Linked DNA regions of Homo sapiens: region 1 is linked to region 2. The links come from fine-mapping of genetic effects on gene expression. A gene starts in region 2. The other region holds a variant in brackets. All regions are shown on one strand. Distances are between the middles of the regions. Region 1 has its middle 16 kb from the start of TBC1D9B. Region 2 holds the start of MGAT4B (alpha-1,3-mannosyl-glycoprotein 4-beta-N-acetylglucosaminyltransferase B).

The links. PIP is the estimated chance that this variant, and not a neighbour inherited with it, causes the effect.
Region 1: its variant is the best candidate, but not a certain one, in a credible set for the expression of MGAT4B in whole blood (TOPMed, PIP 0.57).

What each region holds. Positions count from the first base shown.
Region 1 is chr5:179,921,647-179,925,646 of GRCh38, forward strand. It overlaps a transcript of RNF130 not described here. Among named protein-coding and RNA genes, the nearest start is that of TBC1D9B, 16 kb to the left of the region's middle. The variant C/T (reference allele first, on the strand shown) is at 2,195.
Region 2 is chr5:179,804,646-179,809,157 of GRCh38, forward strand. MGAT4B (alpha-1,3-mannosyl-glycoprotein 4-beta-N-acetylglucosaminyltransferase B) reads right to left here and starts at 2,221. Exons shown (of 15, transcript NM_014275.5): 1 at 1,842-2,221. The coding sequence starts at 1,938. It also overlaps a transcript of SQSTM1 not described here. RefSeq lists silencers at 1,076-1,495, 1,506-1,635, 1,766-1,835, 2,066-2,625, 2,796-2,965 and an enhancer at 1,377-2,038.

The DNA.
Region 1 (4,000 bases), 120 kb after region 2:
ATTAGCTGAGCATGGTGGCATGTGCTTGTAGTCCCAGCTACTTGGGAGGCTGAGGCAGGAGAATCGCTTGAACCCAGGAGGTGGAGGTTGCAGTGAGCCAAGATCGCGCCACACGCCTGTCATCCCAGCACTTTGGGAAGGCGAGGTGGGTGGATCACGAGATCAGGAATTCAAGACCAGCTTGGCCAACATAGTGAAACCCCGTCTCTACTAAAAATACAAAAAATTAGCCAGGCATGGTGGCAGGTGCCTGTAATCCAGCTACTCGGGAGGCTGAGGCAGGAGAATCACTTGAACCCAGGAGGCGGAGGTTGCAGTGAGCGGAGATTGCACCACCGCACTCCAGACTGTGTGACAGAGTGAGACTCCGTCTGAAAAAAGAAAAAAAAGGAAAAAGAAAAAAAAAGATGGCCCTACCGGCAGCCTATGGTAGTCTCAGCTCCTTTTCATACTCACAAACACTTGACATGGTCAGTCTTGGAAAAGTTTAGGCATTCTAGCAGGAGTGTAGGAGCTTCTCATTGTGGTTTTAATTTGCATTCTCTGATGACTAGTGACGTTGAGCATCTTTTCATGGGCTTATTAGCCAACCGTGTATCTTCGTTTGTGAAGTGTTTTGTTCAAATCTTTAGTCCATTAAAAAAACTGGGCTTTTAAAAAAAATTTCTTTTTTTAATTTTTTTTGAGACAGAGTCTTGCCCTGTTGCCCAGGCTGGTGTGCAATGGCGCCATCTCGGCTCACTGCAACCTCCACCTCCTGGGTTCAAGAGATTCTTGTGCCTCAGCCTCCTAAGTAGCTGAGATTACAGGCGTGGGCCACAATGCCCAGCTAATTTTTGTATTTTTAATAGAGATGGGGTTTCACCATGTTGGCCAGGCTGGTCTCGAACTCCTGAGCTCAAGCGATCTGCATCAGCCTCCCAAAGTGCTGGGATTATAGGCACAAACCACCACGCCCGGCTTGGGCTGTCTTCGTGTTATCAAGTATGAGGGTTTAAAAAAAATTCTAGGCCGGGCACAGTGGCTCATGCCTGTAATCCCAGCACTTTGGGAGGCTGAGCCAGATGGCTTCAGCTCAGGAGTTCAAGACTAGCCTAGGCAACATGGTGAAACCCCATCTCTACTAAAAATACAAAAAGTAGCCAGGTGTGGTGGTGAGCACCTGTAGTCCCAGCTACTTGGGAGGCAGAGGTGGGAGGATCGCTTGAGTCCGGGAAGCAGAGGCTGCAGTGAGCCGAGACTACACTACTGCCCTCCAGCCTGTGCTACAGAAAAAAAAATAATAATAATAATCCTCGATACAAGTCTTGCCAGACATACATTTTGCAAATATTTCCTCCCAGTCTGTGACTTGCCTTGACATTGTTATAACAATGTCTTTTGAAGATTAAAAGTTTCAAATTTTGGTAAGATCAAATTTATTGATTTTTTCCTATTATAGTTTGTGCTTTTTGTGTCAGATTTAAGAATCCCAAGGTCACTAAGATTTTCTCGTACATGTTCATCTAGAAGCTTTATAGTTTTAGTTCTCACACTTAGATGGTCCACTTCAAGTAAATCTTTGAAAATGGCAGAAAATAAGAGTTGAAGTTCATTTTTTTTTTTGCATATGGATATCCAATTGTTCCGTCGTCGATTGTTTAAAAGATTATCCTTTCCCCCACTGAACTGTCTTGGCACCTTTATGGAAAATCTATTGATTGTAAATGTGTGGGTCTATTTCTGGGCACTATTCTGTTCTAGCAATCCATTTGTCTGTCTTTATGCTGTTAAATTAAATTTAGACTAAACTGCTTCCTTATATATTTTAAGTTCGGCCTAAAGGTTTCTCCATACACAGTGAACTGTCACCTAAATGGATGTGTGACAGACTGTAACCGATTCTTGTACCAAGGAGCTGAGTCTCAGCCAATCCCAGCGGCTGAGTTTCAGCCAATCACAGGTGGCCAACAGTGCAAAGCGTGTTCAGTGAGGCAAAGGCTGAGCTTCACCCATCCAGCTGGTTCTGTACCTCACTTCCCTTTCCTGTACCTCACTTCCCTTTTTCTGTCCATAAATCCAACCACGGTGCAGCCCTGGAGTTGCTTTGAACCTATTTCGGTCCTGGGGGCTGCCCAATTCTTCAATCACTCTTGCTCAATTAAACTCTGTTAAATTTAGTTTCCCTAAAGTTTTTCTTTTAACAACACTAACA[C/T]CATATTGTCTTGATTACTGTAGCTTTACAGGTCTTGAAATTAGGATTAGAAATTCTCGAACTTGATGGGCACGGAGGTTTGCGCATATAATCTCAGCAGATTACTCAACAGACGAGTATTAAATGAAAGCATTTCAGTGCTAGCTCATGAGCTGCAGGGCAACCTCTGTTTTCTTAACTTTTCTATATTAAAAGTCTTCTGCATTTAAAAAATTGGCATGAAGTCCAGCTTGATGGTCAGTATCTGTAATCCCAGCTACTAGGGAGGCTGAGGTGGGAGGATCGCTTGAGCCCGGGAGTTCAAGTCCAGCCTGGGCAACACAGTGAGACCCTGTCCCTAAACAATTTTTTTTTTTTAATAAATAAAAATTACTGCTGGGCGTGGTGGCTCACGCCTGTAATCCCAGCACTTTGGGAGGCTAAGGCGGGTGGATCACCTGAGGTTGGGAGTGCGAGACCAGCCTGACCAACATGGAGAAACCCTGTCTCTACTAAAAACACAAAATTAGCCAGACATGGTGGCGCATGGCTGTAATCCCAGCTACTCGGGAGGCTGAGGCAGGAAAATCACTTGAACCCAGGAGGCGGAGGTTGCGGTGAGCTGAGATTGTGCCATTGCACTCCAGCCTGCGCAACAGAGCAAAACTCTGTCTGAAAAAAAAAAAAATAAATACAGGCTGGGCGCAGTGGCTCATGCCTGTAATCCCAGCACTTTGGGAGGCCGAGGTGGGTGGATCACCTGAGGTCAGGAGGAGTTCGAGACCAGCCTGGCCAACATGGTGAATTAAAAATATAAAAATTAGCCAGGCATGGTGGCGGGTGCCTGTAATCCCAGCTACACAGGAGGCTAAGGCAGGAGAATTGCTTAAACCTGGGAGGTGGAGGTTGCAGTGAGCCAAGATGGTGCCACTGCACTCCACCCTGGGTGACAGAGTGAGGCTATCTCAAAAAAAAATTAAATATAAATAAAAAATTTAAAATGGGATCAATTCAAAAATGCTTCCTATCTATCCACAGTAGCCCTCTAAGAGCAAGGTCCCACATAAAATATGAGCTATTTCATTTCTGACAAAGGATCCTCAGCCCCCAGAAGCATCAGCACAATCCAACAGCACTAAGGGAGGAAGATGAAAAACAAAGAGCTGATGACAGGGGAGTTTCCTCTCTTCAGGATGAATTAAAGCTATCTGCCATATTGTGAAAAGTGTATTTGGTTTTTATCCGGGCTTCCTGGCCTACAACTGCTAGAATCCTCAGAATCTCCACAGTGGTATCTTTCATATGCTAAAGAGGTGGGTGAAGGCGGGCAGCCCCCAGGTAGCTCCGGGATGGGGCTGGTCACCAGAAGGACCAAGGCAGGACTAGAGGCCTGGGACTTTCAGCCTCACCCCCCAGCCTCCAGGGAGCGGAGAGGGGCTGAAAGTTAAGTTGATCGCCCATGGCCAACAGTTTAATCAGTCATGCCCACGTAATGAAGCCTCCATAAAAACCCAAAAGATTGGGACTGGGATACTTCGGGGATAGCTAAACACGTAGAGGTACCGGTAGGGGAGGGCACTGAACTCCAAGCTGCTTCTCACATGCCTTGCCCTACGCATCTGTCAACCAAAAAGAGAAATAACAGGCATTGGAACTAGAGAAGCATGGCTGGGTTTCTTCTGTTTTTTCATTTATTTATTTATTTATTTTATTATTTTCTTCTTTTTGAGGTGCTCTCACTCTGTTGCCCAAGCTGGAGTGTGCAGTGGTGCGATCCTAGCTCACTGCAGCGTCAACCTCCTGGGCTCAAGCAATTGTCTTGCCTCA
Region 2 (4,512 bases):
CTGCCCACCTCCTTCCTTCCCTGCAGATTCCACTTCCTGGGTCCTTCCCTCAAGTTCCTGGACCCCCGCTGGCTGCAAAGTGGAGGCCAGGTTCCAATCTGGCCTCCGACTGGCTACGTCTGGTTTCACCAGGGGTTTAAGACAGATTTTCTACATGTGACAACGAGATGGGTTCACATAAGAGCCCAGATTCCCAGCTTCTCTTGAGGCCTCCAAAGACCTGGTACTACTGGGTCACCACAGAAACAGTGACAGCCCCTCGACAAGGGAGGCCTATGTCACCCCATACTCATACCTCACAGGATCCTTAGGCTTCTATCCCCTAGGGGCTGGGCTCGTGAATCTAAGTGCTCCCCTTCTTTGCTCTCCTGTTCCCCAGGCCCTCAGAGAGCCAGCCTCCTGGATGCCCCCCAGACACAGTGGGTGCCATGGAGCCAGTGCCTCTCCCTCACTCTGCTGTCCTGGAGCCTGGCTCCCTGTGGTAAGCCAGGCTTGCAGAGGTGGCTCCTGACATCAATCCGCGGGCATGTGGCTGCTGCGGGAGGCACACACTGGCTCAGGACAAAGGGCAAGGGCTCACGGCTCTACCCACGACTCAAAGAGCATGCCCCAGCCCTTCAGATATGGCCCCACCTAGGCCTTCATGCCAGTGTGCTTTTATAGTCACCCTGCCAAGGACCCAGAATGTCCTTCCCCAGGTGACACACCCTACCTACAGAGAATTCTGCCCCAGCCATGCCTGCCCTTGATAATATACCCCGCCAGCACGGCCTCTGCCCAGCCATCCCTCCCGTGTCAGGCAGGCTCCCCGCAGAGTCCCTGGGTGATGCCTCTCTGGCCCTGGAGCCCCAAGGCCAGCCCAGGCCTCTGCTCTGGCAGAACAAGTGCGGCAGGCGGGCGTGCTGGCAGAGCTCGGCGTGGGTAGATGGAGCTCGGAGGGTCCGGAAGGGTCCAGGTTCCCTCGCCCTCCTCCGCAGCCTCTCTGGGATGGCGCTCCGGGACAGGGAAACAGGGAAGCAGGTGGCGGGGAGGCCGAGGGGCAGCTGGACTCAGCCCGCTTAGGCCTCCAGCAGGCAGGCAGGCAGGAGGCCACTCTCCCGGAACCTCCAGGCCGGGGGAAGAGCGCCTCCGAGGGCTCAGGCCCTACTCGGCCCCACCATCGCCAAGACCGGCCAGCGGGGCGGCGCGGGGGGATCGGCCCGCACCCTCCGCCTGCAAGAGCGCTGGGCGCACGCGGAGGGCGGGGGCCAGCCCGGGAAGCTCGGGGTGCGGAGGACGGGCTGGGGCCGCACGGGAGCGCAGGGCAGCAGGGGCCGGGCTGCCTCAGGACGCCTCCCTCCCTCCCTCCCTCCCTCCCACAGGCCGGATGCTGCCGACGCGTTCTGGGCGCCGAAGGGAGTCCCAGGACCGGGTGTCACGCCGGGGTCGCCCAGGCCGGCGCGGGGCAGCAGGCAGCAGGGTGGGGGGGTGCCCTCGCGCCTGTGTCCCTCACGCCGCCCCAGCTCCTGCCCAGGTGGCTGTGGCTGGCGTTCCGGGACCTCTGTGACCTTGGGTCTCTGCCCCTCTCCGAGAACCCCACGGGTCCCCAGCTCAGCGTCGGGACAGCTGCGCCCGCGGAGTCCGGTCCGGAGCACCCACGGGCGCGGCCCGGGCCCGAGGAGAACGCCGCGGCTCCAGCAGCAAACAAGTGGGGGAGGGTGGGAGGGGCGTCCTCGCGCCGCCCGGGCGGGGAAGGGGCGCCTGCGTCGGCTTCCGGCCGCCTTCCGCGGCCACCGCCGGGCCCGCTCCCGCCGCCGACGCCCAGGTGCGCCAGGTGCGGGCCGGGCGGGGGTCGCGCTCACCTTTCTGGCCGCTGAGTGCCGCGTACCAGGACAGCGAGAGGAAGGCGCACAGGCAGAAGAGCAGCAGCGTCAGGAAGGTGCCATTGCGGAGCCTCATCTCCTCGGGTGCGCGGCGGGCGCCCGCGGGGCCGAGGCTGCATGGCCCGGGGGACCGGGGCCGGGGCGCAGGGGTCGGAAGGCGGCGGCGGCGGCGGCAGGGGCCCCGGCCCCGGGTCGGGGAGGGGCGGGGGGCCCGGGGCCGGGCGGGGACCGGGCCAGGGAGCGCGCCGGCCGCCCCTCAGGGCGCAAGCTTTGTGCCCTGTACTCAGGGAAGAGGAACAGGCTCAGAAGGGCAGAGGCAGGTATCAGGCTCACTGCAGATATCAGGGGCGCGGGACACTGGCGGCCTCGCCTCCGCGGCAGGGCCGGGCCGGGCCGGGCTGGGCTGGGCTGGGCGGCGAGAGCCGCGGCCCGGCCTGGATCTGGGGCCTGGATCTGGGGCCGCCGCGGAGTCGACGGCGCAGGGCGGGGCGGCCCGGATTTAAAGGGGCCGCAGCACCGCCGTCGCCGGCGCCGCGAGGGGGTGGGGTGGGGGCCGGCGGCCGGGATCCCGATCGGCTCCCGCAGCCCCGCGTGGGCTCGTGCGAGTCGGCCTCAGGTAAGGCTGGAGTGGGAGTGCAGGTCGACCGCAGCCGGGGCGGGGGGCGGGCGGCGGGGGCGGCGCTCCGGGACCCCGGTACCCTTCTCAGCAACATCTCCTCCGCGCGCGGACCCCGACCCCATTCGCACGTTCTCGGGGCTCTTTCCCGGGCGTGAGGGGCTCTGGGTGGCGCGGGGGACTGGGCGGTTGAAGCCGGGAGCGACCGCTGCCTTCGCTGCCGCCCAGGGCGCTTCCCCGCTCAGGAGCTTCCTCTGGGCCTCTGGACGGAGGCGCGCAGGGGCCCGGGAGGCGGGAACGATGGGCCTTTCTAGGCGGTATCAGGGCCGATGCTCGTGGATGCAGAGCAGTGACCAGCCCAGAACCGTACCGGCTTCCCGGGGCAGGGGCGGCCCGAGAGCGCCGCTAACGGGAGCAACGGGCCCTGCCCCCGGTGGTGTAGGGGCCACCTCGCCCCGCCCAGCCCAGCCCGATATTGATGGGGGCCCACGCCTTCATTGTTTTTTTGTTGTTGTTGTTTTTTGTTGTTTTTTGTTTGTTTGTTTTTGAGACGGAGTCTCGCTCTGTTGCCCAGGCTGCAGTGCAGTGGCGCAATCTCGGCTCACTGCACCCTCCGCCTCCCGGGTTCAAGCGATTCCCCTGCCCCAGCCTCCCGAGTAGCTGGGACTACAGGCGGCCGCCACCACACCTGGCTAATTTTTGTATTTTTAGTAGACACGAGGTTTCACCGTATTGGCCAGGCTGGTCTCGAACTCCTGACCTTGTGATCCGCCCGCCTCGGCCTCACAAAGTGCTGGGATTACAGGCGTGAGCCACCACGCACGGCCCATTTGCGTTCTAATTTCAGGCGTTCCTCAATCCTCTGTGGAACCAGGAAGGGCGCAAATTATAAAGGGACTGGCCCAGCGCCGCCTCTGGGCAGGCTTTGGGCAGCGCCTGGCCCGCTGCCGGCTTGGACCTCCCAGACCTAGGGGCCCGGTTCCTGGTGGAGGCTGCAGGGACCTCTGCCCCACCCGCCCGGGGGAGGCCCGAGGGGCTGGACTCAGACTGAGATTGAATGCGGCTTTGTCTTCCTAGTTCAGCCCCGGCCCACACCTGGGGCTGAGTGGAATCGGGAGCTTCGAGGGGTCTGGACAGAGAGATTGATGCCAAGAAGGGGGTGGCCGAGCCAGAGGTTGAAGTGGGCTGGATCCTGAGGCCCCCTGTTAAAGGAGAGGGCTCCCCACTCAGTGCTCCTGGAACTTTCCGAACTAGAGACTGGGACTTATAGGAGCCTTCTAGAGGAAACTGTCGTGTTTTCACAGGTGTCTTCTATTTGTGGCAAAGGATAATGGCTTTTCACTTAGGTTGTGACATAAAGGGCCTTAGAAATTGTTAATGAGTTACTTAATGTTAAAACTTAGTCACCCAGAGGCCGGGCGCGGTGGCTCATGCCTGTAATCCCAGCACTTTGTGAGGCCGAGGCAGGCGAATCACGAGGTCAGGAGATCGAGACCATCCTGGCTAACACGGTGAAACCCCGTCTCTACTAAAAAATACAAAAAATTAGCCGGGTGTGGTGGCTCATGCCTGTAATCCCAGCACTCTGAGAGGCTAAGGCAGGAGGATCATTTGAGCTCATCAGTTCAAGACCAGCCTGGGCAACATAGTGACACCTCATCTCATTAAAAATTTTAAAACAAATTTTTTTGGATTTTTTTGTAATTTTATTTATTTATTTATTTATTTTTAGTTTATCTTATTTTTTTTTTTGAGACGGAGTCTTGCTCTGTCGCCCAGGCTGGAGTGCAGTGGCACTATCTGGGCTCACTGCAAGCTCCGCCTCCCACCTTCACCCCATTCTCCTGCCTCAGCCTCCCGAGTAGCTGGGACTACAGGCACCCACCACCACGCTCGGCTGATTTTTTGTATTTTTATTAGAGACGGGGTTTCACCGTGTTAGCCAGGATGGTCTCGATCTCCTGACCTCGTGATCTACCTGCCTCGGCCTCCCAAAATGCTGGGATTACAGGCGTGAGTCACCACCCCGGCCTT